Regions from separate parts of the Homo sapiens genome. Here all the other regions are reported to be linked to region 1. Evidence: microRNA targets listed by miRTarBase, many of them from high-throughput screens and not tested one by one. Region 1 holds a microRNA gene; each other region holds the end of a gene's coding sequence.

What was found. Region 1 holds the annotated microRNA hsa-miR-2682-5p (CAGGCAGUGACUGUUCAGACGUC, at 3,229-3,251, shown strand). A microRNA usually pairs through its seed, bases 2 to 8, with sites in the 3' UTR of a target mRNA and lowers its output. Matches are read on the target gene's strand: a 7mer-m8 pairs with bases 2 to 8, a 7mer-A1 pairs with bases 2 to 7 and ends in A, and an 8mer does both.
Region 2: the mRNA of RASSF4 is a reported target of hsa-miR-2682-5p. Seed matches in the 3' UTR shown: 7mer-m8 at 5,624-5,630.
Region 3: the mRNA of CTDNEP1 is a reported target of hsa-miR-2682-5p. Seed matches in the 3' UTR shown: 7mer-m8 at 5,079-5,085.

Annotation. Positions count from the first base shown.
Region 1 is chr1:98,038,453-98,048,557 of GRCh38, reverse strand. It overlaps MIR2682 (microRNA 2682), which reads left to right and starts at 3,207; the gene lies at 3,207-3,316. It overlaps LOC124904228, which reads left to right and starts at 3,055. Exons shown (of 1, transcript XM_047437906.1): 1 at 3,055-7,644. The coding sequence starts at 3,168. The coding sequence ends at 3,689. It overlaps MIR137HG (MIR137 host gene), which reads left to right. Exons shown (of 5, transcript NR_046105.1): 2 at 1,931-2,039; 3 at 2,162-2,550. MIR137 (microRNA 137) reads left to right here and starts at 2,387; the gene lies at 2,387-2,488.
Region 2 is chr10:44,989,560-44,999,664 of GRCh38, forward strand. RASSF4 (Ras association domain family member 4) reads left to right here. Exons shown (of 11, transcript NM_032023.4): 8 at 111-162; 9 at 1,389-1,510; 10 at 2,346-2,443; 11 at 3,710-6,332. The coding sequence ends at 3,770. LOC124902530 reads left to right here and starts at 4,477. Exons shown (of 3, transcript XM_047426129.1): 1 at 4,477-4,612; 2 at 5,246-5,382. The coding sequence starts at 4,477. ZNF22-AS1 (ZNF22 antisense RNA 1) reads right to left here. Exons shown (of 4, transcript NR_126421.2): 3 at 9,758-9,863; 4 at 4,373-4,647. RefSeq lists enhancers at 1,443-2,134, 2,164-2,665, 2,666-3,165.
Region 3 is chr17:7,239,011-7,249,115 of GRCh38, forward strand. It overlaps CTDNEP1 (CTD nuclear envelope phosphatase 1), which reads right to left. Exons shown (of 8, transcript NM_001143775.2): 2 at 8,267-8,333; 3 at 8,054-8,172; 4 at 7,781-7,852; 5 at 7,244-7,360; 6 at 7,016-7,127; 7 at 5,541-5,625; 8 at 4,581-5,235. The coding sequence ends at 5,175. GABARAP (GABA type A receptor-associated protein) reads right to left here and starts at 3,439. Exons shown (of 4, transcript NM_007278.2): 1 at 3,231-3,439; 2 at 2,591-2,669; 3 at 2,332-2,450; 4 at 998-1,909. The coding sequence starts at 3,320. The coding sequence ends at 1,844. PHF23 (PHD finger protein 23) reads right to left here and starts at 447. Exons shown (of 5, transcript NM_024297.3): 1 at 236-447. The coding sequence starts at 269. RefSeq lists enhancers at 48-697, 825-914, 2,596-3,147, 3,148-3,699 and silencers at 345-524, 575-714, 3,312-3,501, 4,092-4,201.

The DNA of each region.
Region 1 (10,105 bases):
AATTGAATATGCACCCAGCGGCAGTGGTCTCGTAGGAAATGGTGTTCTCGTAAGTCAGGCTGCCCCGCTCAAGCACGAGAGAGCTTTGGTTAGAGCTCAGAGCGTCAGTTCTGCTGCGAGTGCTGCCGGCAGTCGGCCCGGGTTGAGCTGTCCATTCGTCCAGGTGCTGAAGCTGGTGGAACATTGGGTAGGTAGGGAAAAGGCTGGCACTGCTACTTGGGTAGAAAGAAAGCATATCAACTGCGTTGTTCTAGTTTCTTAAAGCGTGCGAGTCTGTGGGTCAGTGTGTGTATATATTTTATTTTAATTGTGAGGAAGCAAAACTGAAGGAGACTACTTGGAAAGCATTGAAAAGCTGTGTGGGTATTTATGCTGTGATTCTGATGCCCTGTGTATTGGGGTGTGTGTGTGTGTGTGTGTGTGTGTGTGTGTGTGTGCCTCCCTTGACCATCCTTTTGAGTTTATAACGTTCCATTTACTAAATCCAAGCCTATCTGTATAGTGTGTTTCTTGTTTTCCTTTTAATATTAGTTGAGATTTAAATAGAAGAGTGCAGAAGCAAATGTACACTTTGCTCATAGACTATTGCATTACTTTCCCTAAGGGCTTTTGTTTCTAGGAGTTCAAGCTGAAGAGAACCTGTCAGCTTTCTGAATTTTTTTTTTGTCTAGCACCAGAGAAAAGCTCCACTTTATACCTATGTTAGGTAACAACAGAAAATAGTGCTTATTTATTTGTTTTATTGGTATCTGTCCTTTTGTAAGTGGTGTACTTAAGAGTTATCTGAAAATAATGTAAAACAGTCTGGTAGTTGGGCTATATTGGTTTTCTTTCTAGTTATTTTAGGTTCAGACATTATATATTAAACATCTATTCATAAAACCTAGAATTCATGTTGATTTTTCCATCTGTAAGTAACATGTCAAGAAAATGATGAGTTGGTGTGCCCGGAGAAGTATTATAATTTTTAAAAAAATAAGAGCAAACACAACCTAAGCACCTTAAATTGCAACCAGGTCAGTTAGAGATGAGTTGTGGTAGTGGGAGAGATTCTGTTATATAATTACTCCTTGATGAAGAGCTATTTGCACTTACATAATTTGGGAAATCATAATGTCTATTGCCATGTTTCCATATTCCCCCCCATTCCCCTTACATGGATGTACTTTCATGTATTTGAGAGTAAAGGGGAAAGCAAATTGAGAACTTTCTAAGGAAGCTACACCATGTCTTGGGTAGTGACGTTGCACTTGTCCATTTTATTTAGTGAACAATAAACCCCCATTATCAGAATATCCACTGCAGGATCTTAAGACAAAGCTTTTCCAGTAAGAGCCATATTGATCATCAAAGAATCACAGAGATTCTCTCTCTGAATGCCAAAATTACAGTCACTTTGCAAATGAGTTTTTATTGGCTTTTTCTTCTTAAAATAATATTTATGAACACAGAGCTTCAAAGGTTTTTCTGTAGAGGTGTCCACAACAGCTGTACAGCAATGCATTTATAGTATATATTTTAAAAGTGTGCTATGAAATTAAACATTGTAGTGATATAAAATGATGCTTAAATCATAGAAAGTCTACCAGCTTGTCAACTCAGTGAGTTTTGACACTATGGAAAATGGGTTTAATTACTGTGTGCCTTCAAGCTTTTTTTTTTCTTTAAAAATCATTATGTTGTATAGCTATAAGGCCTTCAAAGGAAAGACGCCTATTTTTGTACATCTATAAGTATTTGATTTCAAGTAGTAAATTGAATGAGTGTTTATTTTCCATGATCTTGGGCTTGAGAAAAGTGCATTTCCAAAACACACTACTGAAAATTTCACCCATGCATGACCTATCTTTATTTAAGCCTCACTTCTTCCCAAAGCCGTCTAGGCAAATATATTTGTATTTGTGTGGGTAACTATTCACGTCTCTTACAGGGTTCTCTGGCCGCCATGGCACTCAATCATACCACCTAGAGTGGACTGGCCGAGACCAGACTGGGTACCAAGCAGAGAAGTGCAGAGGAAAGCACTGGGAGAGCACCAGGTAAACTGAAGGTTACTTGTCACTCCCACTTGTGCCCAAAAAGCCTTGCCACATCTTCCCTCCTCACTGGAAAGACAGCACTCTTCTGTGTTAAGTATTTGATTTTGTGATTTGTCTTTCAGAATTGGAAATAGAGCGGCCATTTGGATTTGGGCAGGAAGCAGCCGAGCACAGCTTTGGATCCTTCTTTAGGGAAATCGAGTTATGGATTTATGGTCCCGGTCAAGCTCAGCCCATCCCCAGGCAGGGGCGGGCTCAGCGAGCAGCAAGAGTTCTGGTGGCGGCGGCGGCGGCAGTAGCAGCGGCAGCGGTAGCAGCGGCAGCGGTAGCAGCGGCAGCGGCAGCTTGGTCCTCTGACTCTCTTCGGTGACGGGTATTCTTGGGTGGATAATACGGATTACGTTGTTATTGCTTAAGAATACGCGTAGTCGAGGAGAGTACCAGCGGCAGGGGGGCAGCGGCCGCCCTCCCCAGCCCACCAGCTGGCCACTAAACGCCCGTGGTTGCCAAGGTAGCACTTTCTTGTTCTTTTCATTTCCTCGGGTGTTTTCGCACTGGTTCCACCGGAAAGGCTGTGCGCTGCGCCTCTGGTGACCAGGACTGGAAAATGGGTTCGCGCAGGGGGCGGGGGGCGAGGTGAAGGGGATGGGCGGGGAGCGGAAGGGGGTCCGTTTCCCCGAGCCTGCGGGGCGGTTCGGCGTTCCCAGTCCGCTCCTCTCCTCTCCACGGTGGGGTGCGGCTGGAGGGAGAGACGCGGACGGGGCGATTTTCTAAAGTTGGGAACGACTGAAAGGCCTTGAGCAGTTTGGGAGCGTCGCGAGTGAGGCGCCGAAGCTGGGCAGAGGGTCGCTGGGGGCTGCCTCCGCAGAAAGGGCGTGTCCGTGGGCGAAGGTGCCCCCGCAAGCCTGCGGAAGCGCGTGACTTCGCGAATCCCGAGCCCGGGGCGGTGCCGGAGCCCCACCCCCGGCCGGCCGCGCTGCTCCGCAACCAGACTTGGCGGCCGAGATGGGGAGGGGGCGGGGGCCCGGGGGCTGGGTCCCCGCGGAACTTCCAGATCGGAAGTGTGGCGGGTCTCTCAGGAACGCATATTTTCTTTTCGGATTCTCCGAGAAGGGGTGGAGAAACAGGATGGGAACCGGATTGGTTGCAGTGTGGCACAGACCTGGAACCTTCCTGAAAGAGGTTGGGGCAGGCAGTGACTGTTCAGACGTCCAATCTCTTTGGGACGCCTCTTCAGCGCTGTCTTCCCTGCCTCTGCCTTTAGGACGAGTCTCAAACACCAACAAACGCAAGGCACGTCCCCCCTCTCAGGTCAGCTGCGAAGGCGTGGGAGCAAGAGAGAGCCTCTCCCTCCTTCTACTTAGAGTTTTTGTTTGTTTGTTTGTTTGTTTGTTTCAAATATTAATGGACGATAAAACAACACGGATTTGTCACCTCCTAGCGAAGAGGAAGCCACCGCCACCACACCCCTCAAGCATGCCTGGGCACTCCTGGGGACAATCGGACGTGGCAGGAGTTGGCATGCCCAAGATGAAGCTGGGAAGGATGACCCAGAGTGGAAGGCGTGGGCTGGGGCTCCAGGTCTCAGCTCTCGCCAGCGTCGGACCACACAGCTTTGCCAGCTTTGCACCTTGCCTTTCCTTCTTGTGAGGCATCTGGGACCGTCCTATCAAGGCGCTTCAAAGGTGGAAGGACAGAGTGCTGGGGACAAGAACGTACCAGGCGCCCAGAAGATTCCACTAGCGCGGCCAAACACTAAGACCAGGTTTCCTCCCTGCGTGGTGGTCGTTGGTTGTGCACGGGCTACGCACGAAGACTGAATTCCTGAGAAATGGAAACTGCAGGAGAAAAATCAAATAAACTTAGAGGCCTGTGAAGCTCTCCCTCTTGTCGCTCTGGGACCGCTCTAAGCTGAGCTACATCTCAGATACCTTCTCCCCCTGGAGGATGGGCCTTTCTCAGGCACGAAGTGCGTGTGCCCCACTGGGCTCTTGCCCACAAGAGCAGTCTGAACCCTGGAGAGGCTGACACCGAGGTGTCTTGAAGGAAGCAGGCACACTCTCATGCTTCCCCACCTAGGGTTTCGCCTTTCTTCTAATATTTAGGATTCCCAGTGAAGGGTACTCCACACACACCCTCTGCCTACCCCTAATCCCACCCCATTGTGTCTGATCCCACAATTACTCCCAGGGTATCTATACTCACAGCTTTTGCGCTCAAAGAACATTGTCGTCTGCAGGGAACGGGTGGAGCCCTTCTCAGAAGCTCCCGGGGGCGAGTCCATTTTAAGAATGAGTTGAAGTAGGAAAGAAAACACAGATGCTGTCTTTGCATTCGACATTCTATCACCAGCAAGAGAATATGTAACTCCTGTTCTTTCCTTCATTATTCCATGAATTACCTTTTTTCTCTAGGGATCTACCAGTTGGTGATTTAGGGCTTTTAAATATTATGCTTGTTATGTATTTAACAAAATGCAATATGTCTACTGGTGGCATTGTTTCCTTGGGAAATTAGAAAAGTAGAAGCTACATACTCTAGTTCCTAGGTGGTCTCTGGAAAGTTGGCCTCATGCTGGTTGGCTAAATAATAAGTGTTTAGGATTTGAAAGGAAGAAAGAGAGCTGAAGTCCTGGTGACAGAGTTTGTGAGAAACAGAAGATGTAACACTCTGGCATTTGTTGAGGAGATGAGGAAGAACTTTTGAAAAATAAGCTATTCTATTCAGTTTTGTGCAAATTTATTGCAGTTGCTTCATAGAGGAAGAATAATGTTGAGAATGGAATAATTGCAAATGCTAGTGATGAAATCTAAAGGAAACCTCTACTCATAGTTAACTGAAAGTATTTTTGTTGTTGTTGTTTAAATACTTATCTCATTGCTTTCTTTCCTTTGCAGAATTATTTTCCTATAATAGTTTCCATTAGGTGTCAGTCTGAACTGGTTCTTACTTAAGTTAGGGGTGAAAATGTTCCATCATCACACCTTTTAAGATAAGAAAGTGGGAAAAATTAAAACTTTATTAAGTTGAAATTACTGGAGTTAATTTTTATTGTTAAAGACAGCTTTTTTATTCCCAGAAAAAGTAATTTTAAATTATGTCACCACTAGTCAATGACTGCTTTTGCCCTGTCACTGTCCATAGCCATGATTAAAGAAGTACAAAATGCTTGTTTGTGCATTTCATGCTAGATCCAAGTAGTGTTAAGTAGTCATAATTTTTGGATGGCTTTTCAATTGATGTCCTAAGACTAGAAGGGTAAGCAGCCTTTTCTAATATTTCTTTTGCTTTACAAAGGTGATAGAAATTTTTCCTGAAAAAAGGAACATGGATTCAGCTTAAGCTGTTCATTTGACAATACTGAGGGCACAGTAAAGGAGGAGGGAGACAAATTGTGAAAATTACTTATGTCCACTAGTTTTACTTTAATAAATCCTGCTTAAATACTCAGAATTTATGAATACAATTTATGATATATAAGTGGGATATTTTAGGTCGCCCATTTAAATTTATATAATGTCTATAAATGGTCAATTTTATACTATAATATTCATTAATAAGCATAAGAAACATCATCTTGATTGGTCATTTGCTACTGAGTCCCAAGTAAGTAGCTTGATAGAAACTGCATTTTTCAGAAAATTTGCTTATTTTATTCTTTGTATTTGTGAATTCTGTTCTGATGTTGTTGCTTGAATAAAATTGTGGGGAGTGGTGATGGTATTCGTGGTTAAAGATCCATAGAGCATTATGACAACCCCATGAACTTTCCCTGAGGCCATTGTGAGCCCTAGAATGATGTGGTTCTTGGTGTCAGAGCAATGCCAATCTAGAACCAGAACAGAGGTCCCAGTGAAAGTCCAAGCAAAGGCAAGCAACGATGAAGTAGCATTTTGATGGAAGGAATATTCCAAAAACCCTATTATCAATTTTTGTCTTATTATATTCCACATTAGTCATGAGAAATTTTCAAATTTAAAAATAGACAACAAAATTAGAGATGATGGGTATATTGGGAAACATTTTTGTGTTTTATGTAAGACAGAGGAGAAGTGCTAAGGACATAGAAGGAAAGACAGCATAAGGCCATCACAGTTGTTCACCATCTTGTCAATATGTACAGGTGCAGCTACCATTGTATCACGGAAATGACAGAATGATGTTCTTACTGTGTTGGAAAGTAGTGTATTCTGCATGGGAGACTTACTGTTTAAAAGTAAATTTCTTTTGGATATATTTTCCGTAAGAAGAAAAAATATAATAATGACATCAGAATATTTAAAGACTTTTAAATCATTTAGCTATTGAATTTAGTTATTGATAGCTGTACAGCTATATACACAAATGGTAAGTAGAGTTTAAGCAAATAGCTTTGTAGTACAATTTGTTTTTTAAATGTTTTCAGATTTTTATCTTAGTGCTTATACTTTAAATCTTGACTTACAAGTCTTGCATTTAAGTCTAGAAAACATTTTGCATGATTGTATAAAATAAACATTTTAGTTGAGGAAACACTGCAGTTCATCCAAAAAACATAAGCTAAAAAGATATAATATTTTAAATTTCTTGAAATGTGTTTGTTACCCAGTAATTAGTTGAGTTTGTTGAGTGCAGCCTAACAATAAAATCAGTGTATCTGTATGTTTGTATTGTTGACCAGCTTAAAAATTTATTACCAACTGTATCTTGTGAGTTCTGGGTTCTGTTACATCCTGGCTAATAATAATGTGAGCTAAGCAAGGCAGTCTGATCTCCAACACAATTAAAATATTATAATACATATGCAAGGGTAAAGACAACACTTCATTTGCTTTATTTGTGGAAAAGCCCTTTGAGACTCATAGTATTTGAAAATATATATATATATAGTAGATCAAACTAGAACCAAATGTTAAAAACCTACGAGTTCTAAAACATGCAGTTCAAAGATTTTAAATAAGGGTTATTGCCTTTATTAATTTAAAACCAATACTGAATCTCATTCAGTTAAATTACAAACTAAAAAAGACATATTGCTGGAATCTATTAATACTATGTTTCCAGTTCAAATGAAATTTGTACTATAATATGCTTTTTAAAAAGTTGACAAATTATATTACAATAGTGACATAATTGCATAATTTGAAAGTAGGGTCTATTTGTAAACTTGAATGAAATATGTGCTTTTTGGAAACACTTTTTCTGAAAAGATTATTTTTATAAAAATGATACATTTTAATTGGAAAGTTGATATTTCTTGCAATTTTGTTTTTAAAATTTGTATTCAATACATGAGTGAGTATTAATTGAAGCCTATTTTTGTCTCTCTAAGCTAGTGTAGTCAATTTCAATAACTGTTTCAAAGAAGTCTCAAGATAAACTAAAAATTACTCATTTAAAATAGTTTTTTATATATCTGCCAAATAGTCCATTAGTTTTTGGATTCCAAGAAGAATGAATGAATGAATGAATGAATGAAGGTCATGCCTACTATTCTGTCAGAAGCAGATATAAGAAAAAGACCTTTTCCTTTGTAATAGAAATATATCATGATAAGACTTCCAAATATCCTGGATTGTTTTACAGATAACTACACAGGAATTAAAGTTATAGAATGATTACTTTATGGATCCAGTTTCATGTTTTTTTTTCCATAACTGTTATTTATATAGGCTTTGGTGTTTACTGAGACAAAGCAAATTTGAGAATTGAGGCTCTTACACGGAGAAATCTCAAATTTCATTTTGTCCCTCAATTACATGATACTTAAGGAGTGAGGTATATCCTGTGGTAGAAAGAACTTTGGAATAAGACTAGAAAATCTGTTTTCGAGTACAGATTCTGTTGTGAACTATGACAATGGACCTATCACACAGCTTGCCTGGTCTTCACTTGTCTCATCCATGAGAAGGGCTAGATTTAGATTCGCTTAAGGCCTTTTTACCTCTTTAGGATTCCATTTCAAAGAAAGCCTTTTTTTTTTTTTGTATGAATTCTACACTTCATTTCATGTAAAGATGGTGGGCCAACTGATATCACAACTAAGACAGAAGCTTTTAAAAAGTATTCACCAACATTTTGTCTTAGTATTAAATAATAAAATGGTCCTTAAGATTTTTACTTAAATTCTTAAAGCATGAAACACATGGAAATATTTGTTGCTTTTTCATGCTTCATTTTTTATTTGAAGTTTTAGTAGGGAAAAAAGCCCCAAAAGAATGCTTTACAGATTCATTCTAATGTGTTAGCATGGGAGTACACGTATATGTACATCTGTATAATAAATTTGAAGCTACTCAAACCGCAGATCTATCTTCATAAGCATTTTAGCCTAATGAGGCCAAATCACAAACAACTCCATTCAAAGTTGATGTATATGATTGTAGTGGATAAAGAATGAACATGAACACTTGGCCTCTAAAAATGTTTACTCCTTGTGTAAATGTTTATGCTATTAAATTCAATTACAATATTTGGAACGGCATGAAAATTACTGGTTTTTTTTTCCATTCTGTTAAAAGGACCAATAATTGTCGAGGATATTTAATTCTTCTAAAATGGTTAATCTTTTAAAATACCTAGTCCAGTGTTTGGCACATAGTAGGTGCTCAAAATATTTATGAATTTTGTGAAAGCAGTGATATCCTTTTGGGGCATACGTGAATATAAATTTTACATTTTTTCATAATTATTTAAAGTCACTATTATATAAAATGATTGTTATACAGCATATATTTGTTTAATTTAATGTTAACATAAAATTTAATTCTTTAATTGTTTACTAATAGTGCAGTTATTCTTTGCCAAGAAGGAAAATACATTCTCTCTGATTATTTGATATAACTTTTAAATAACGGAAAAATCCATGGGAACATTGCTTTCAAGCTGATATTCTTTTTGAAACTCCAAGAATCTGTTCAATCTACTATTGAAATAGAAAATTTTAGTCCATGTGAATGTTACCTAATGTATTTATTTAATATTAAATGTATAAATATTTGTAAGAATTTATAAAGTTTTAAGAAGTAATCAATAGAAATGCACATTGTGCAATATAATAATTACTATGATAGGCATACTTTCAAAGCTAAAGATCTGTGTAAGTTTTTTAGTTTTAAAAAATTATTTACTAGGAAAACAGACTAAGTTACAATTTTATTTGAAAGGTGTGACTCTCTGGGAGGTTCAATTTATAGTAAATATAAATTGACTTTTTGATCACAAAATAATACACCCATCCTCTAAAAATTAAAATAATATGGTTTATCAGCTATTGCTTTATTCAGATAGTTTACATACTATCCATTCTCAGTTTAATTATGGGTATAAAACATTATGTCCATTGAAAACTTTGACTCTGATTTGTGTGCTAAATGGAAGCAAGCATAAAAAGAATAGAGATTTAAGGAGGAAAAATTAATTAAAAAATAAAAACTTTGAGAATAAGTTCAATAAAAATTCTACAAATCTTTCAAAAGTAATTGCCTTCAAATATATATCTGGGGGTAGGAGTGTGAGGTTTGGAAGCCATTTATTCACACTTTTATTAAAATATCTCATGTTCCTTTTTGTTGTTGGATGTAGTTGTCCATAAAACAGCTTTGAAATTGTTTTAATATTATATATTAGAACAGAGTCAAAATAAGGAGATTCTTTATCACAAACAAGCAGGTTTTTGTTAGTTGTGAATGCTATGTTTATTAAAAATAGTGAGTGACATTAAACTTTTGAGGCGGTTTCACATTTACATTTGGTGATTTGTGTAGATAACAATTGAATTTGACAAGAGAAAAGGGACAATGATAGCAAGTAACAATGTTAATGATGTGGACTGGAGTGAAGAATGTGCAGATTTTGGTGATGTATTAAAGTAACAATAATGAAATTCCTGGTGGCTGGGACCAGTACACCTTGAAAAAATATAAATCTTAGGAAACATTAGAAGAGGTCTTGTTCTTTATATGGTACCGTTTACCCTGTTGTGATGGGTAGTGTTCAATATTGATTGTATATAGTTTATCTGTGTAGAAGGATTCTTTCACAGTATGAGTGACAAGTGTATCCCAGAGTTCTTGCTTTCAAAGTCA
Region 2 (10,105 bases), not on the chromosome of region 1:
CTTGCAACTTGCGTGTGTGTTACTGGGGGTGTAGTTACTGTCAGGGGACCCTCTCAGTTCTCTCCCATCTCCAAGCACCGTGATCTGACTTCCTGTGACTGCCTGTGCAGGTGGAAGATGGCCCCAGTGAGTTCGCACTCTACATCGTTCACGAGTCTGGGGGTAAGTACCTGCCCCACTTCTGGATCGTAAAAGCAAAAGGTCTCTACCTGTTCAGCAAGCCCCCTCCCCACCAACCACTGACTGTACTCCCTTCCAGATGGGCTCCGTGCTGGCTTGCCTAGTGGGCTAGGGCACACTGTGCCTCCCAGCATGAACATTTCTCCCCCACCCAAACCCAGGCACACTATGGAAGCCTTGAGGAAAAGAAAACATACTTTTGGCTTCGAATTTAAAGCACATTAAAATGTCCTTGGATTTTCTAGGTCGCTCAGTACATTAAGTTTAATTCTTTCAGGATTCTGAAGGAGAATCCCACCAAGCTATAGGAAGCCTCCCTCTCCGCCTCTTCCAGAGAAATGGATGGGTGGGTACCTAGCTCCTTGGCGCCGAGTCAGGAAGGGTGGGGTGCGTGTCGCAGTGCATCAGGCCCTGGCCCTCCCGTCTCAGCTTTCCTTTCTCCCACCCCTCAGATCTTGTTTCTCTTCAAGCTGCACCTTTGCTGAATGACACTGTAGGGGAGGAAAATTATCTTCTCTTTCTACCCATTTAGGTTCACTGGCTGGGGCCCTGTATTTAGATTAACAAAAGACAGATTAAGGAGAAGAACAAACAGAAGTTTGTTAACACTTGCATCATGCATGCCCTTTGGAATATCCAGGGATGAATGGTCAGAATTTGGGCTTAAATAGCATATTCACAAAAGAGCAGTAAGTTTTTAGAGAAGTGACAAGACAGAGGAGAAGGGCCTGAGTTTCTGGGGAGGCGAAGGGTGGGAAGGTCACCGCACGGGGAGCTGCGGGAAGGGAAGGGCTTCAGCGGGACGTGCTGTGCAGGTTCCTCTGGTGCCCTCTCCAGGCTGAGGAGGGGCTCGGGTTGTCTCTGGTGATTAACTCCATCATTGCCTAGAGAGGGACGGGGGCACACCTTGACAAATTTATGTCCTGCTTTTTGGCAAATAGGGGAGGGCAAAGAGCCTCACTTGTATCTTCTTCTTCTCAATTGCCAGCCGCTCCACTTAATCCTTATGCCAAAGTGGCAGATCTGGGGGCCCTGTTCTGCCTCCCTTCTGCATGAGCAGGAATCTCTCAGGGCAGCGCTGTTAGCGAGGTCTGTGTTCTTAGGGTTCCCTGCGCCCCTAGACGCACATTTTCTATCAGTTCCTAATCTGGAACAGACAGAGGTGATCCTAATCTCCCGTGATTTTTGTAAACCACCTTCTTTTTCAGAGCGGACAAAATTAAAAGACTGCGAGTACCCGCTGATTTCCAGAATCCTGCATGGGCCATGTGAGAAGATCGCCAGGATCTTCCTGATGGAAGCTGACTTGGGCGTGGAAGTCCCCCATGAAGTGAGTGGGGGCCAAGGCTGGGGAGGCCTGCTCTAGGGTGAGGGGTTCTTGGGTGACGGGGCCTCCCAAGGACTCCTGGCCAGAGCCCTGTCAGTTGATGTCTCCAGGAGCTCCACACTCTCCCAAAGGGCTCCCAGCCTAGCACAGGGAGGCGCCAGCCCTCCCTCTCCCATCAGTGACCGCCAGCACCAGCAGCTTAGGGGAAAGAAGAATTTGGGTCCTATAAAACCATGGCCTGTCCTTTTCCTCTAGGGAAGTAAAGTCTTTTCCTTCATTGGAATGTATTTTGTTGTCATTATGTGAGAGACCTATGCAAAGGCTTTTTAACTAGGCCCTACCTCGCACCTGTGGAAAACAGGGAGATATTTAAGTCTTACCAACAGCCTGAGTTCTGACCAGACAGTGAGTGCATTTCCAAACTCCTCTGCATAGAAGATGCTTACAGGGTTTGAACCTCAAGTAGGAGGCCTAGTGACCCCGTATCCCTCAGGCTGCTGCAATTGCATTCCATTGTTAGAAACAATGGTGCTCCCACCTCCCTACCCCCTAGCCCAGAGGGCACCCAATGTGACAATGCTGCTGTACTGAATGCTCTTCCTAATATTCAGTTTAATATTTCCTCCCAGGGATAACAGTTGCCTTTGAGATAGTAATAGGCTCCCGTCCTGGCATCTGTACACAACACAGCAGTGTGGGGGTGGGGTGGGAAAAGCGGCAGCTCCTTCTGTGGATACAAGATGTTGGCTGGATGGGCCACTATGGAAGCCTTGAGGAAAAGAAAACATACTTTTGGCTTCGAATTTAAAGCACATTAAAATGTTCTTGGATTTTCTAGGTCGCTCAGTACATTAAGTTTGAAATGCCGGTGCTGGACAGTTTTGTTGAAAAATTAAAAGAAGAGGAAGAAAGAGAAATAATCAAACTGACCATGAAGTAAGCAGCACTTAAACAGACAGTCATGGGTCCTGAACATCAGGGCAGGTCTGCAAAGCACAGCACCAGTGCCGGCTGGGAGGTCTCTCTCCTCCATGGGCACCAGTACCCTGGTACGGGAAGGCCTGCTAACCCTAGCTCCCCAGCATCACCCTCTGGCCCCCTGCTCGGTATTGCCACCACGCTGGGGTGACAGCTTGCCAAAACAGTGGGACACAGCCCCGATCACCCATCCAGTCTTGGCATCCTCACCAGCGCAGGCATGAGCTGCAGAACACCTGGCAGGAAAGTCAGGCAGGAACCCAAGTGGGCGCTGGGTCAAGCTTCTGAGTTCTGCTGGTGATGTGGCTCCAAGGAGCAGGCATGCTGAGGCAGACTTGGCCTGATTAGGGCCTTTTGTCCTAGTGGGAATTCTGAGCCTTCCCCAAAGTGGCAGATGCTGGAACTCCCAGCCTCAGCCGATGTTTTCAGGTGCAGAGGGCTAGTTCAATGAAAAGGTGAGCAGGTCTCACCTGCCAGCTCCTGGGGACACCACGCCAGGGTCCGGATGCATGAGTTAGCCAGGCTGTAGTCCCAATGACGTCTCCCCCTCAGCAAAGTGAAGTGTGGTCCAGGACTTGTGGAGGGCACCCCACCAGGGCTGGTGGGGAGGCAGCTAGGAAGGAAAGGGCAGGAGCTCACTGAGAGGGCCTGGGGTGTGTGGGGAAAGGATGGATGTTAGCCTCTGGTTGAATGACCCGTGGAAAGCCACATCCTCCACAGGCTCCTGTCTGTGCAGCCAGACCCCAAACAGGCAGAGGAGACCAAAGTCAGAGGGAATCTTCCATTCTGCAGTCAGTCCTGACCCCGTAAGATTTGAGAGCTGAAAGGGATCTGGGGGGCAACTAGTGGGTCCACTCAACGTACAGAGTGGACGCTGAGGCCCAGCACAAGGAAGGTTGCCGCATAGGTTATGGCAGAATCTGGGCTGAAACATGGGCTTCCCGATCTCTGCTCTACCGCCCTGTCCACTCCAGTGTGCTGTTGTCTGTATTAGAGTCTGCAATAGAAATGACAACACTCTGCTCTGATGCTCTGTGCAGTCCACAGCCTGGTTTGACTGCACCTCATGAGGCGCAGGCCACAGCCTTCCCCCTCCTTGGCAGAGGAGAGATGAGGCTGCTGCAGGGATCTCCTGAGCTGGCCATCTGCAGGTCCCTTGCTCTGCTGCCCACCTCCCTGCCCTGTCTGGCCTCAGTGAGTCCTCTTGGCGATGTCTCCCTCCAGGTTCCAAGCCCTGCGTCTGACGATGCTGCAGCGCCTGGAGCAGCTGGTGGAGGCCAAGTAACTGGCCAACACCTGCCTCTTCCAAAGTCCCCAGCAGTGGCAGGTGTACACTGAGCCCTGGTTGCTGGCCCCGGCCGGTCACATTGACTGATGGCCACCGCCTGACGAATCGAGTGCCTGTGTGTCTACCTCTCTGAAGCCTGAGCACCATGATTCCCACAGCCAGCTCTTGGCTCCAAGATGAGCACCCACAGGAAGCCGACCCAGGCCTGAGGGGCCAGGAACTTGCTGGGTCAGATCTGTGTGGCCAGCCCTGTCCACACCATGCCTCTCCTGCACTGGAGAGCAGTGCTGGCCCAGCCCCTGCGGCTTAGGCTTCATCTGCTTGCACATTGCCTGTCCCAGAGCCCCTGTGGGTCCACAAGCCCCTGTCCTCTTCCTTCATATGAGATTCTTGTCTGCCCTCATATCACGCTGCCCCACAGGAATGCTGCTGGGAAAAGCAGGGCCTGCCAGCAGGTATGAGATCTAGCCTGCTTTCAGCCATCACCTTGCCACAGTGTCCCCGGCTTCTAAGCCTCCAATATCACCCTGTGAGCCTCGCACAGCTCAGCCCCAACACAGAGGTGAGACCAGGAATAAGGCCACAAGTATCTCACTTTCTCTGCAGAAATCAATCTTTACTTCATCAGAGAGACCTAAAGCGATTCTTACAAGGAGCTTGCTGCAAGAAACACGGTCATTCAATCACATTGAGGAGGGTCCACATGGCATTGAGAGGGTGCTGCCCGCTCAATGCCCAGCAGCAGCTCTGGAAGGCAGTGCTCAGCCCCATCACCACTGTCCCGTGGATGCCTGTGTACCTCTTGCCTTTTCTGGGCTTGCGTTTCTCTCCTCTAGTGGGTGGGGATGACTTTCAATGACTTTCAATACTTCCCCTGAAGGAAGAATGATAAGGAGAAATGTCTGTTTTGAGGAAAGGGCTTTGAATTCCCCAGATACTGAACAATTTGTGTTTGTGACTGATGGAGAATTTCAGGAATGAATGAGAAAGCCTTTGCGAAACTATGCAACAGTTTACATCAGTCATGTGAAGTATTTGTCTAAAACAGAGCAAACTGAAGACCAAATTATTCTCCTGTTGAGGTCCGTGGATGGCAGATTTAAAGGGAAGAACCACAAAGGCTTGCAAAGATAGGAGAGGCTCCATCTCTAATGCATGTAGAAGCTCCTTACGGGTGCCCATCAAGAGCATAGCTTGGAAGCCACCATGCTGTGCGGAACTGCGTCAGGGCAAATGTCACAGCAGGATTTCCCCAACCCAGCTCCATCATCACAGACACAGAGAGCTGCAGGGGAGGCCTGCCCACTGTTTTGTCGACTCTGCCCTCCTCTGGCAGCATAGATCCTTAGGTGCTCAATAAAGGTGTGCTGTATTGAACTGAAGAAGTGAGAACCAAGCTTTTTTTTTTTTTTTTGCTTTCTGTGCATCCACCCTGACCCCCGGCTCTAACTTCTGAAACTCTTATCCTAAAGGATGTGTGGCCATGTTTGGCAGAAGAGCCACAACTCGCTGCTCTAGGAGCCGACATGACTCCTTCATTTCTGTGCATGCCCTGGGGACTAGGGTGGAGCCTGAGGAGAGGCTGCCATGGAACACGCAGGCGTCACTGGTGGGAGCCTAGAGGTGACCTGGATGATGAGCAATAGAGTCACCCCGAGTCACAGAATCTTAGCATCAGGAGGGCCCCAAGAATCTTCCAGGCCAGGGGCTCAGGTGGGATGGAAGCAGGGCCTAGGAGAGGGTACAAAACAAATCAAACAGGAGCTCCCAGGTAATTGTACTCCCAAGCTATTATTTACAATCTCAGGTGGAGGACAGCTCCTGTCCCATTGTTCAGCTGTAACTGAGTGACTGCCTTGTGCCAGGCCTGTGCTCAGCCCTGGAGGCACAAAGATGGAGCCAGTCTGTCCTGTGTCTAGGGGTCTTCTCATCAGGAGAAGAAGGCCAGACACTGGAAGGGTCAAGAGATCAGCTGAGCAACGAACCGGCAAAGCTCCTGGGAGTGAGGTGGAGGCCAAGGCAGAGTTGGCTAAGAAGTGCATGTGGCGTCACAGGCCAAGATGCACCTGCCAGCTAGGAGCAGGCCAGGTCCTGGCACACAGGAAGCCAGTGGAGCAGGAGACCCTCCCTAAGTACCAGCCTGTTTGGTTGGTTGGTTTGCTTTTGAAAGTTATTACAATATTATTTAAGGCCTTTTCGGATAAGTTCACTTTTAAAGTAGGTGTTATCAATCTAATTTCTGAACGTTATGGGTCAGAAAAATCACTAGCAAGTGGCTCAGAAAAAGGGAAAAGGTACACTTCTGCAATCAGCTGAGGAGTTCACACCTTTTTTTCTAAATCAACATCATATTTGCTGTTCAGAGGCAATCTGAAAAGCTGCAAATTCAGCTCACCTCAACCCCATAATTTCAAACGTTAGAGGCTGGTCTCTGTGGTTTCCTACTGGTTCCTGTGGGGAGCTCCCGCTTTCTTTCTACATAGAGCTTAGGGTATTTCTCATATGCCCCATTGGCTACCTAGTGTCTCAGGTAATAAACGTATCCGAAGATAAAGCAAAGATTGCTATGGGAGAGTGTTGTCTCCTAAAATAGGACTGTCTTGCCAGGCCAGGCCTCAAGAACCAGAGAGAATAATAAACAGCACAGGATGAAATCAGCATGATTGCAAAAGGACTGGACTCAGGAAAAACAAGTTTGTTTGCCCAGAACAAATTACCAGAAGGGATCAAAAACATCTTGTTTTTCTTTGGTGATAACCATATGCTACCGGATTGGAATGTTTACCAGAAAATGGAATAAAGACCTTCCCACTGGCAAAATAGAGCCAGGGTTCACCCAGGATACATCTGGCCCCTTAGTCCCATGGAAACAAGGCCCAAAGCTTATCCAGTCTGACCAGATGATTTGTGGAGGAACCAGCCCTGCAAAATGTGTCCCGGGTGTGTAGGACGCAGGTGCCTTGCAGCTGCGGAGGGGCAGCGGGATATCCTTGCCAGGTGCAGTGGTGGGCAGCATCCCCCTGCCCTCAGTTCCTCAGTGGTGATCAGACAGGAAGCTTGGTCGATCAGAGCCAAGCAACTGAGTATAAAAACAGCCAGATGCATGGGCTATATTTAGGCCCTGAGAGCTGCGATTGTTTGGGATCAGGCTAGCTGCTCACGTGCCCTGCCTGAGACTCACGTTGTGCAGGGTAGGGCCCTGTGCCCTCCTGGTCAACTTTTAACAGAGATGTTTTCTCAGACCTAGGAATGGGAACTCCCAGGGTTTTCTTTCCCAGAGAGTCCAAAGGAAACAGAAAGCCAAGTCTCAGGCTTGGTGGAAAGAACCATTGTTCAGGATCCCTGGGCTGAGAGTTCTTGGTGGGAGACGGACCACTGTTGTTACCGCACATGAGCCACACCTATAACTGCCTTTCTGGCACTTGGGCTGGGGATCCATGTTGCCAAACACAGACCCAAGGCAGCAGTGCTCCCTGCTGAGACAGCGTGTGTGTGTGTGTGTGTGTGTGTGTGTGTGTGTGTCTGTGTGTGTGTGCGCAAGCCAGTGGTGTGCAGGGGACAAAGACATAGGAAAATGAAACTGTCTTGCCAGGATTTTTCTCACCCCAGAAGACTCTTTTTCCTGGAATGAACCCTTCAAATACCACTGGGCTCAGGGACACACTGGTCCCTGCTGGGTAGTTTCCCAGAGATGTCCCAGCCACTAAGGGATCTGGCCTCTCTTGGGCCAGAATCCCCAGAAATATGTGCAGAAAGATGCCCAGACTGTGTCCACCCCCTGCCTCCCACACCCTTGTTCCCTTTCTCCCTTGTGTTTTGTAAATATCATGCGTGACCATTTTCAATAATTTAATTTGCATAAAAATTGCCTAGAATCCCATTTGGGAGATAGACTGTTATAGAGAGGTTAATAGGCTCTGGAGCCAGGCTTTCTGATTTCAAAGTCTGGCTTTGCCACTTACAAATGTGCATGACCTTGGGCGAGTTTCTTGCCTCAGTTTTCTCATCTGTGAAATGGGGATTCTGTGTGGAAGAAAACAAAGTGCTTTCTACTATTCTCTCACTCAGCAGCAATAATCACAAAAGACTTCTGTGACCAAACGGGGTGAGGGATTCTCCCCACACACCAACCAAGCAATCATTTCTGCAGGGACACCAGCTGGGTGTCCTCTAATTCAGTTTTGACACTATCTACTTGGAGATGGCATCACCTCCCATAGGTTGAGGGCTCAGTCCCATAAGATGGTCTCCACCCTTCCCATTAGTTACAAGCCCTGGCCTCTGGAACTTGTGAACTACCCACTTCAAGTTGGGATTCTCGTGACCCCCTCCTTGGGTTAATTTGCAAGAGCGGTTCACAGAACTCAGCGAAACACATTTCCTGGTTTATTACAAATGATATTCCAAAGGATATAGAAAAAGAAATGCATATAGTGAGGTATGAAGGAAAGGGTGCGGAGCTTCCATACTCCTTCCCCTTTGCACCCCCCGACCCCAGGTGGCACCCTCCAGTAACATCCATGTGTTCAGGTATCCAGAAGCTCTCTGAACCCAGTCCTTTGGGAGCTTTTATGGAGACTTTGTAACACAGGCATGATTGATTAATCCATCAGCCATTGGTGATCCACTTCACCTTCAGTTGCCCTCCTCCCCAGATGTTGATGGGGTGGAGCTGAAATTGCCATCCTTCTAATCCTGCTGTGGTCTTTCCAGTGACCAGCCCCATCCTGAAGCTACCCAGGGGCTGCCAGGCATCAGTCAACTCATCAGCATATAAAAAGACATCACTTTGGAGATTCTAAGGATTTTAGAAGTTGTATGTCAGGAAACGGGGAGAAGATCAACTATGTATTTCACAATATCACAGGATAATAACAATTCCTATCTCTTACGGTTGGTGGGAGGTACATTAGTCAACTTTAATGCAATAATACCACCAAGAATCTCAGTGTTACAAGAGCATTTGTTTCTCTAACATTACGTGGGACCGTTGTGGTTACATGTGAGCTTCTGTGGCTCTGCTCCATGTGTCTTATCATCCTGGTTCCTAGACTAAAGGGGCAGCCCCTACTTGGGACATGCTATTCTCAAGGCAGAGGGAAAGAGCAGAGTCCTGGCAGAAACACAATGACTTGAAGTTTCTTCTGGGATGTGATGTACCCCTTGCATCCAGTCACATGCGGTCAGCCAATTCAAATCAGTGGTCAAGTCAACATCAGTGGGACAGGCATGTGGTTCACCAGGAGGCACCGGAGTCACACCACAAAGTGCAGGGACCAAAACCAGAGAAGGTGGAGCAAACCCTCAGGAATAATCATGCCTCAGGAATCTCACGTGAGATCCTCAAATGCTGCAAACAGTGCCTGGCACACAATAAGCACTCAATAAGTGTTAACTATTATTATACTAACAGCTAGGCTGAAGGCATAAAACCCTACCTGCTTTCTCTCCCTGTCTTTTTCCCATTCTCCTTTACCCTCCTCTCCTTCATATATTTTTCTGGCTCTCCCTCCTCTCCATCCTTACTGCCCAGGACTCTGTCCACACTTAGGGACACACACCCCTTTATTTCCTGACTTTCGTCTCTCTCTTTTTAAAAAATCCATCCTCGTTTACCCAATGCTTTAGTTGACATACCTCTGGCCCTTCTATGGCTGGCCCAGTTGTTTTCAGGTATAGGAAAAAGGGATAATCCATCTTTATGTAGACATTAAAGGAGTTAGTTTTAATTAGTAACTACCTTACTAACAAAATGGCTTTTTAAAAATTATCTTTTTATTTTAGTGTACATAGAGCAGACAGTCCCAACGGGTCATGTTTGCTCCTGACGCTTTTCCTAAACCATTTCTAGATCTCTGGCCATTGCCCTTTACCCCAAACTCTCCAACCACCAGCATCAACCAACTTATAACAATTTAATAATAAAAGTAACAACGACTCTCATTTCTTCTGTGTTATACATTGTGCTAAGTGCCTTACATTACCTCATTTAATCACTGCAATAGTCCAGATACTCTCTAGATTGCGAGTGGAGCTTCTTTGTCCAGACCTCATTCAGCTTTGTGCTTTGCCATATGCAGAGACAGCTCCCTACAGAGCAGAAAGCCCCAACTTAAGAGAATGAACCTATGACTTAGTTTAGCCTCCACCAACAAACCACTGTATTACTTCAGGCAGGTCAGCCTCTCTTGCTTCAGTTTACTGATTTGCAAGACAGATATGATAATCTGTGCTTCATGAGACTATGGTGAAGATGAATAACCAGAAGATAAGATGTAAAAGTACTTTGTAAACAATAAGGCATCTTATAAATTCATTCATTCAACAGCTAT
Region 3 (10,105 bases), not on the chromosome of region 1:
CAAGCTCCTATCCCCCGCACCCCCACACCGTCTGATCTCCAACTACCCCAGCCCAGTTTCCCACTCCTCTTTCTCCAAGGTCTCTCAACTCGTCGCTCTCCCACCTCCAGGGCCAGCCTCCCGACCCCCTCCCCGAACTCCCCCGCTGGGCTCCGGGGCTCGACCTCCAAGTTTGCCAATTGATTCCTCGCCCGCCCCCCGCCGGCTCAGCGCTCTGCACCGGTCGAGAGCTCACCTTCGGGACTGGGCTCCGCCATGGCTTCCAGCATCGCCCCCTCCCCTCCTCCCGGTCCGGCGCCCCCCTCCCCGGAGCCGGGGATCCCGGTGCCGCCTCTAGTGCTCGATGCTCCCACTGCTTCGCTCCACAGAAGTGTCCGCCTCAGCCCGGTTGAGACTCGAGTCCGCTAGCCGCTGCCGCCACCTCCCTCTACCACTGCCTCCCGCACTCCCGGACCGGGCCCCCTCCCCCCGCGCCGCCGGCCGCCTGCTCCCTCCTCCTCCTCCTCCACCTCCTCTCTCCTCCCTCCCTCCTCTTCTCTCCCTCCTCCCCCCGCCGGCGCCGAGGCGCAGTGCACCAAGGGTTTTGTAGTCCGTCCGGGAACAGCGGAAAAGGGACCGCATGAACCTCCGGAACTTTGATTCCCAGAAAGCCACAGGCTGGCGCAGGCGCACCAAGCCGCTCCCCTCCCCCGGGGAGCGGCGGGGAGACCAGGAGCCGGAGGGGAGAGCGGAAGTGCGCGCGCAGGCCCCTGGGAGATGTAGGCTGGGCGGGACCAAGAAAGAAGAGGAAGAAGGGATTAGAACTCTCGGCCACCATACTGCCTCGTTCTGCAGCTTCTTTCTCCCCAGGAGGACCGCCCCACTTCCGGCCTGCCGGAGAAATGATTGCTGGGAGTTGAAGTATTCCTGGCGATAATGGCTCCCGCTCCCAGTCTTCTCCCTCCCTGATTCCACTCTGCCGGATCCCACACACCGGCAAAAGTCTAGCCAAGTGACATGCAACTGAGAACAGCCGTTTTACTAGCTTGCACACATGAAAATATCTTAGTTAGAATGTTCTAGCAAATGTGGATGTTCACCTAAAGCAGGTACTTCGGAACTTTCTCCACAGGAACCCACAGTAAAAAAAAATTTTTTTTTACATGAGCATTTTTAACATTTAGTTTCACATGCGTGTTATAAAACTAAAGTTTCAAGAAATAATCCTCAGTATTCCATTCCATCACAACAAAAGCACCCTCTTTTTGCAGACAGGGAAAAGCCCAACATGAACAGAATAAACCAAAATATACTTCTATCCCTCCAGCTTGTACCCAGTACTCTTCTTTCCCCACCACTGAAACCCACTGACACCTTGGAAAGACTTAAAATCAGCGGGACGAGGGGAGCAACACAAGGCAAAATTCAGTTCAGCTTGGTGGTTTCCTCTTTATTGATGTGCCTCCTACCTTCCCCCCACAATTTCAGTCCCTTCCAACTACCCCCAAAAAAGAAGGTAGTGAAAGGAAGGGATTGCTGGGGTTCTGAGCCCCTTGGGCAGTCAGAAAGGGAACAGAAACCAAAACAATCACTGGATGTGACACAGACTGACAATCAAGAAGTCTACAGCAGGATGGGAAAGGCGGGCAGAGAAAGGGGAAGAAAGGAGAAAGGAGAGTTACAAGATGCCAACTCCACCATTACCCCTCCTAAGAGAGGCTGGAGAGAAAGCCACAAACATTAAGAAGTGCCGGTCCTGAATAAGGGAGGTGGTGTTTGAGCTTGAAGGAGGAGGAGGTCAAGAAAGGGGGGCCACCTCTCTCTTTGTAGAATGAGACCCCCCTCCAGCTCAGGGGCAGCAGCTTCACAGACCGTAGACACTTTCGTCACTGTAGGCAATGTAGAGAAAGAAGTCTTCTTCATGGTGTTCCTGGGATGAAAGCAGAAAACTGTTCAGCAACTGGGCTCCAGTAACTTAAACCAACCACGACCCAGACACGTTCTTCTAGAACCACAAACCATTGCCTGACTCCTTCACTGACTCCAAGGCCTACCACACGAGCAGTATAATCTCTGCAGTCCTGGGCAAAAAGGCCTCAAACTGTTTTCTGCTGCTTTGGAATGGGGAGGGGGACTGGGAAGAGTCCCGAACAGATAGTTTCTCTAGCTCACTGTTCTCTTTCCTTCTCTCTACTCCTACTGTTCTGTCCAAACCCCCAACCCACGGCTATTATGAAACTTTAAGGCAAGCCAGGAAGCTAGTCCAAAACTACTGATGTAACAACACTTTCTTCCCCTCACGCTCTTCCAAGATTCCTCTCCAAAGCCTCCACCACTTCCCAGTCACCATACCTGGTACAGCTGACCCATTGTGGCACTGGTGGGTGGAATGACATTGTTGACAAAGAAAAACAAGGCATCCTCAGCTCGGAGATGAATTCGCTTCCGGATCAAGAAGTAGAACTGACCAACTGCAAAAGATACAAGATGCAAGAAAGTCACAGAGGTCAAAAATGCCCTCAAAAGAACAGCTGCTAGGTGGAGCCTCCTCCCGCAGAGACTGCACTCCCACCCACAGGAAGCAAGCCTGAGTCTTGGATCAGGTTCCCACCTGTGAGATCAGAAGGCACCAGGTATTTCTTTTTGTCCAGGTCTCCTATCCGAGCTTTGGGAGCCTTTTCTACTATCACCTGATAAAGAGATGAAAATTAGGAGACAGAAGGAATGCAGCCCCGAAGCTGCACCTGTCAAGAACTCAAGAAACAATATTCCTAGCACCTAAATCTACCCCAGATTCATCTCTTTGTCTTTGTACACGCGGTGCAGCACTGAGTCCCAGAGATCCTGACCTCACTGACTGGAGCTCATTTAAATATCCAGGATCCATCCCCCAATAGGGCGTCACCATAAACAACTATCTTAATCAGACGGAGGTGACTTGTTTGGGTCGACTAGTGATTCAATCTCGCAACCTTAGCTAGCTGGGGGGATGACCATTTGAAGCTCAGGCTGTCAAACTCTCTAAGGCCTCAAATGCTAAGGTTTCTCTCTCCTGTCCACATCCCTCTCAACCCCACATCCACCACTACCCCACTCCTTTCATCCTGGGTCCCAAGGACAGCAGTTTCAGGCTCGCTGCCAACCCCACCACAGCCAGCAGCCTGATCCCTGCGCTGCCTGTCCCGATCCAAGGCCAGGCTGTGGCGTCAGCGTAAGCGTCCCGCGCCCTCGGCCCTGGCTACTGTCCTCACCGGCACCCGGTCCGGGTATTTCTTTCGGATCTTCTCGCCCTCAGAGCGGCGCTTCTCGAACGGATGCTCTTCTTTGTACACGAACTTCATCCTCCCGGGAACCGGGCTGGACAGGGCTGGGCTGAGGGAACCCAGGGGGGCCGGGACGGGGGGCGGCGACGACGGCGGCGACGCGCGGGCGGATTCAGCGGAGCGATCCACGAATTTGCGCCACTTCCCTATTCACCAACCCCGCCCCCGACTATCGGGGACTGCCCCCCCCGCTAAGATACGCCACTACCTCAGCGGCGCTAACGCTGCTAGCGTAGCACCACCAACTGACCGGCCCCCTCACGCCATTAGCGTAATCGCTTTGGAATCAATTTGTGGGCTACGCAGGCGACGTAGCAAAGACGGTTGGCTTTTGCTCATCGAAAATTACTCTAAACCTATTCCCCAACCGTCCCCTCAAGGAAGCTGGGGCTGAAGAGGAGTAAAAGATGGTAATCATCATACGAGACTTGGTTCTCCAAGTTCCTTTCGTTAACAACGTAGAGGAACAGCAGGGACAATTACAAGGTTAGCTATTCACGAACCGTGTTGCTACGCTGAAGGCGGCCGTTGACACCAAAACAAAGTAGTACCCAAGTGGCGGAGATGATCTCCAGAAATAAGAAGTCAAAAAGAAAACAGATGTTTGGAGAGATCTACAGAACGCTTAAGTGCCAAAATGAGTAGACCAATAGGGACTGGAGAGGAGGTTGGAAAGGTAGGGACTACGCCAGCGCGGAGGAACACTGCGGGACTTGAGTTAAATCATGTGATCTCAAAGAGGGCGGAGCGTCACGTGGCGGGTGCGCGAAGTAGGGCCGGCTTGGGAGGGCGCCGGGGAGGCGGGGCCGGCTGGGCGACAGCTGGGAGGGGGACCGACGCCTTCCCGGACAGCGGAGGTCGGGGCGCCAGCCACCTGGGGGCAGCGCCCGCTTAACCTGTCCACGTCAGTGCCCCGGACGAAGCCCGGTTTCTCCAGCTCTACGCCCTTTGGCCGTCCAGGTTTCTCCTTTCGTGCTTCCATAGCCGGTTTCTCCTTTCGTGCTTCCATAGCCTGCTTCTCCGAAGGTGTCCTTCCACTCCCCACCAGCGCGCCCATCCTGTCACTCGGCCCTTCCCGCCAAAGCATCTGGTGTCAGCATTATTGTATCCCAGGCATCTGGTGTCCGCATTATTCTATCCCTATACTCAACGCCACCTTTCCCCCTGCCCCTTGAGTCCAACAGCAGTCTCTTCCCCCTCTGCCTGTGGGACAGGGTGCATGTGAACAAAGTCCCCTCTCTTCACTTCCCAAAACCCCAGAGAAGGACCTAAGGCCGCTTTGGTTTCAAAGTTATAATGCATGGTTTAAAAGAGAGAAAAGGAAAAAAGACACAAAGCTGGTTACAGGTCTGAGGGAGTCTAAGGAGAGAAAAATAGAGGGAGAGTAAAGGGGGGACAAATTTAGGGAAAATCCAGTGGCCCAAAATCCCAGTATCCCACCCACAGCCCAGCCCTTGGAGCAGGAGTGAAGAATTAGATCAGTTTTGTACAAGAGTTTTTTAAAAAAAATCAAATCACAACAAAGCTGACTTGGCTTCTCTTTGAGCCTCCTGGATCACCGTATGTCTGTCACTCTGGCCAGTCCTGCCTCTTCACAAACACTGATTCGGCTCTCCTAGGCTTCCGCCTGTGTCCCAGTCTGGGGTTTCCATGGAGTGTGAACACGAAGTTAAGAGTGAGGCTGCTTCAGAGCCCCTGGCCCATGTGTCCATCCAGACTCCAAGTGGAGTGTAGGGCTCCCAGGGCAGAGAGGGGTGGGAGGGGCAGACCCTGCCCAGGCAGTCCTCACATTGGACAGGGCATCAGACGGCATCCCAAGGGCTCGCCCTCCCTTTCCCCCCCACCCCAACTCAGGTGGAGGGGGAGCAGCTGTCACCAGAGCCGATGTTGGTGAAGGTTTCGGCTCAGCACGGAACGAACATCAGCGGTGAACCTGGGGTGACAATAACTTGCATTGGTAGAGTACCTTATAGTTCATACCCTCACAACACTCTTGTAAGGCAGCATCACTGGAGATGTGGGACCTAAATTATCACCATATTCATGATTAGATAGGTTCAATTTGCCCACAGCCTACTAGCTAAAGTGATGAGCTTTGAAGTAAGACGACCTGGGTCCAAATGTTAAATTCTTAAGGGAACAGAGTTAAAACAGGACAAACCTTTTTTATTCCCTCTGAGGATCCCCCACCTCCTCCTTTCTTGAGATATCCAAGTGTCCAGAGCCCACTTCCCTTACCTGAGGGCATCCAGCATTGGGAGCAGGTTGAGAAGGGCTGTGTCGCTGGGGTCACTGAACCAGGATTTGATGGGGATGGCATTGTCTAGGGTGGGTGAAAATGCAGATGAGAAGAAACAGAATTCAAGAGAGACGGTGTTTTTCTCTTCTTGGAGGGAAGGAGGAATTATTGTTAAAAATATATGCCTCCCACTACCGGAAGTCAACAACCTAAGTAAAACTTTCCTGGTTTATGCTCCGAAACTAAGTTTTAATCACCAGATCTCATACCTATTGATGCTTCTAGTCAAGCTTACTGCCATTGTGCCTCACTTGAAACACACTTGGCCAGGCGCAGTGGCTCACACCTGTTATCCCAACACTTTGAGAGGCCGAGGTGGGAGGATCACTTGAGCTCAGGAGTTTGAGTCCAGCCTGGGCAACATAATGAGATCCCTTCTCTACTAAAAATCAAAAAATTGGCCAAGGGCAGTGGCTTACGCCTGTAATCCCAGCACTTTGGGAGGCCAAAGCGGACGAATCACGAGGTCAGGAATTCAAGACCAGCCTGGCCAACGTGGTGAAACTCCGTCGCTACTAAAAATACAAAAAATTAGCTGCGCGTGGTGGCAGGTGCCTGTGATCCCAGCTACTTGGGAGGCTGAGGCAGGAGAATTGCTTGAACCTGGAAGTCGGAGGTTGCAGTAAGCCGAGATCACGCCACTGCATTCCAGCCTGGGTGACAGTGCGAGACTCTGTCTCAAAAAAAAATAAAAAATAAAAAAATTAGCTGGGCATGGTGGTGCACGCCTGTAGTCCCAACTACTGAGAGGCTGAGGCAGAAGGATCACTTGAGCCTGGGAGATCGAGGCTGCAGTGAGCTATGATCATGACACTGCACTCCAGCCTGGGAACAGAGTGAGACCCTATCTCAAAAAATAAATAAAAATAAATTTTATTTTTATTTATTTATTATTTATTTTTTTTGAGACGGCGTCTCGCTCTGTCACCCAGGCTGGAGTGCAATGGTGCAATCTCGGCTCACTGCAACCTCCGCCTCCCGGGTTCAAGCGATTCTCCTGCCTCAGCCTCCCGAGTTGCTGGGATTACAGGCGTGCGCCACCACGCCTGGCTAGTTTTTTCTATTTTTAGTAGAGATGGGGTTTCACCATGTTTGTTAGGCTGGTCTCGAACTTCTGACCTCGTGATCCGCCTGCCTCGGCCTCCCAAAGTGCTGGGATTACAAGCATAATCCACCGTGCCCAGCCAAAAATAAATTTTAAAAATGAAAAAAATGATATAAGAAATCCGACTTATGAAATGGACATATATGGTATCTCATTTGAAACACAAAAATAACTTGCATTTCGACTTACAGCAAACTAGGGATAATCTAGGGAATCCCAGCTCTCAAGGACCAAAGCCCAGGTCTCCTGCAAAAATACCTTCTCAGAACCATGTTCTGGTCCTGCCAGACTCACCACCTTCCCCCGTACCTGGATGGCTCCTGTAAGCCCCTGGGGAGTTATCCAGGATCACAATGCTGGAGAGGTCACTGTGGACCACAGAGAGGTCCTTGATGTAGCTGCCCAACTCCAAAGTGCAGTGCTGGAAGGCAGGGGATCATGTAGCAGGCCTCTCTCCAGGATACTCTCCTCAAACCCAGATCCCTCCCTGGTGGCCTCCCTCCCAAGCCACACTCTTAGACTGGGATTCTAGCTTACCTGTCTGTAATATCTCCTCTTAAGAATGCTTCTGCTATTGTCCAGTTTATCTGCCACAGCAGAGCCATAGATCTCCATGCTTGCTGTAAACACCACCAGCTCGTACCACTGGCTCACCTGAAATAGATTGGGGGAGAGGGCGATGCCATACAAGGTGATGATTCCTTTAGACATACAGTTATCTTTCAGAAAGGCAATGGCATAGTCCTTCAGGCCTTCCATCAACATCAAATGTCTCTGAGGACACGAAATTCTGAACCCCCAGCCCAAACCTCCAAACTCAGTGTTAGGCATCCTACACTCTTATGATTCAGAAATGCAAGAACAAAAGAGAAAGATGCCAGCGGAAAAGAATTACATCAGCACAACAAATGAACCCCAAGTACTGAAAGCCACTCCCCTACCATTACACAGCCTCCCCTCTAGAAAACTGCTCTAACCCGTTTCTCCTCACCCCTTCCTCCAAATCCTCCCAATTCCCAGAGCCCTAAAACCATTCCTTCATTACAGAGCTCCCTTTAGCTCTCCAAAACTCACCACTTCCAGGAAGAAATCCACATGGGGCCTCTTATGTACAAAAAACCGGACAGGATGTTTGTCTATTACCACCTACAGAGGAACAAGATGGGCTGGGGGATGTCATGACCACCACAACCCAGGCCTAGAAAACGCCCCACCCATCTGCTTCCCTCCTCCAGGCTGACACTGGTGCCAGCGGATGGAGACAGATGCTCTGGGACTGGGAAAGGGAGTCCAGGTTTGGGCAGAGGAACAGATGGAACCATTTCATCACTCCCCACCACCACACACCTTGAGGATGAAGTCAGGAGGCGTACCAGGCCGGACTGTGGGCCTCAGGACCCCATCATGGTGGGAGTGAATAAGTGTCTCATCCAGATCCAGCACCAGGATCTTCCTCTTCACCTGGGCTGAACCAGAGTGGGGAGGAATAATATTGACCGACCTCTGACCCAGAGCTAGCCCCTACTTCACCCTAAAGGAGGCTTCCCACCACATACTTACCTAGCCGATTCCGGGACACAGGAGATAAGGGGAGGATATCATATCGAACAGTTTGGTACTGAATTACCTACAAATAGCACAAAAGAGGATTGAAACCCTTGATAAGGAAGCCTTCCCCAGTAACAGTAACAGGGAGCACATAATGAACATTTACCACAGGTACTATGTATGTAATTTAGGCTTATTTCTTCTTCTTTTTTTTTTTTTTTTGAGATGGAGTCTCGCTCTGTTGCCCAGGCTGGAGTGCAGCGGCATGATCTCGGCTCACTGCAACCTCCGCCTCCCAGGTTCAAGCAATTCTCCTGCCTCAGCCTCCCTAATAGCTGGGACTACAGGCGTGCACCACCACGCTCGGCTCATTTTTGTATTTCTAGTAGAGGCGGGGTTTAACTATATTGGCCTGGCTGGTCTCAAACTCCTGACCTTGTGATCCTCCTGCCTTTGCCTCCCAAAGTGCTGGGATTACAGGAATGAGCCACTACGCTGGCCTTTTTCATTTAATCCTCAAAACAACCATAATATTACTGTTATACCTGTTTTAAGGTTAAAGAAACTGAGGCCACACAGCTAGGAATTATCTTAAGTTGTTTCTCTCCCTAATTAAAATGAAAACTCCATGAGAATATGATTTTGTCTAGATCATGGCTGTATTCCCAGTGCCTAGAACACAGTAGCAAAAGTGGTCAGTTGATATTAGTAGAATCAGCCAGGCGCAGTGGCTCATGCCTGTAATCCCAGCACTTTGGGAGGCCAAGGCAGGCGGATCACAAGGTCAAGAGACGGAGACCATCCTGGCCAACATGGTGAAACCCCGTCTCTACTAAAAATATAAAAATTAGCTGGGCGTGGTGGTGCGTGCCCATAGCCCCAGCTACTCGGGAGGCTGAGGCAGCAGAGTGGCTTGAACCCAGGAGGCAGAGGTTGCAGTGAGCCGAGATCGCACCACTGTACTCCAGCCTGGTGACAGAGCAAGACTCCGTCGCAAAAAAAAAAAAAAAAAAAAAAAAAAAAGTAGAATCAATGAAGTGATAGAGCCAGGATTGTACCAATGCAGTTCAACCCAAGAACGTGCCCTCTTTTTTTTTCTTTTTTTTTTTTTTGAGAAGGGAGTCTCACTCCATTGCCCAGGCTGGAGTGCAGTGGCGCGATCTCAGCTCACTGCAACCTCCACCTCCCAGGTTCAAGCAATTCTCCTGCCTCAGCCTCCTAAGCAGCTGGGACTATAGGCGCGCGAACCACGCCCAGCTAATTTTTGTATTTTTAGTAGAGACGGGGTTTCACCATATTGGCCAGGCTGGTCTTGAGCTCCTGACCTCATGATCCACCTGCCTCAGCTTCCCAAAGTGCTGGGATTACAGGCAAGAGCCACCACCCCCGGCCGAAGCTGCCCTCTTAACTGTGATATTATCCTGCTACACTGAACAAAGAAACGACCCCCACAACGCAACCTTCACCCCAAGAATTATTTGTAGCAACTACCATCATTGGGAACTAAGTGCCTCAGATTCCCTAGTGCACATGGAGTAGGAGTCGGGAGGAGATCCCTGGGTCCTTAATGGGAATATAGAATGAGGGAATCCAGAGGTTGTCAGGTCAGCTAAGTTCCTCTGGCTAGAAGCCACCAGGCCTATTTTAACCAGCCACCTGTCCACTTCTGTCCCTTCTAGCCAAGTCACAAGTTCAGAGAACCTCAGCCCTCTGAACAGTCTCCTTATCCTGGTACCCAGGGTGAGGCAAAGAACACTGGAAAGCCCCTGCCAGGCTGACTGGCAGGGTCTGGAGGAGGCCAGAGTGAAGTCAGGGCCGTTAAGTGAGAGGTGAATAAGGGACAAGGACGTC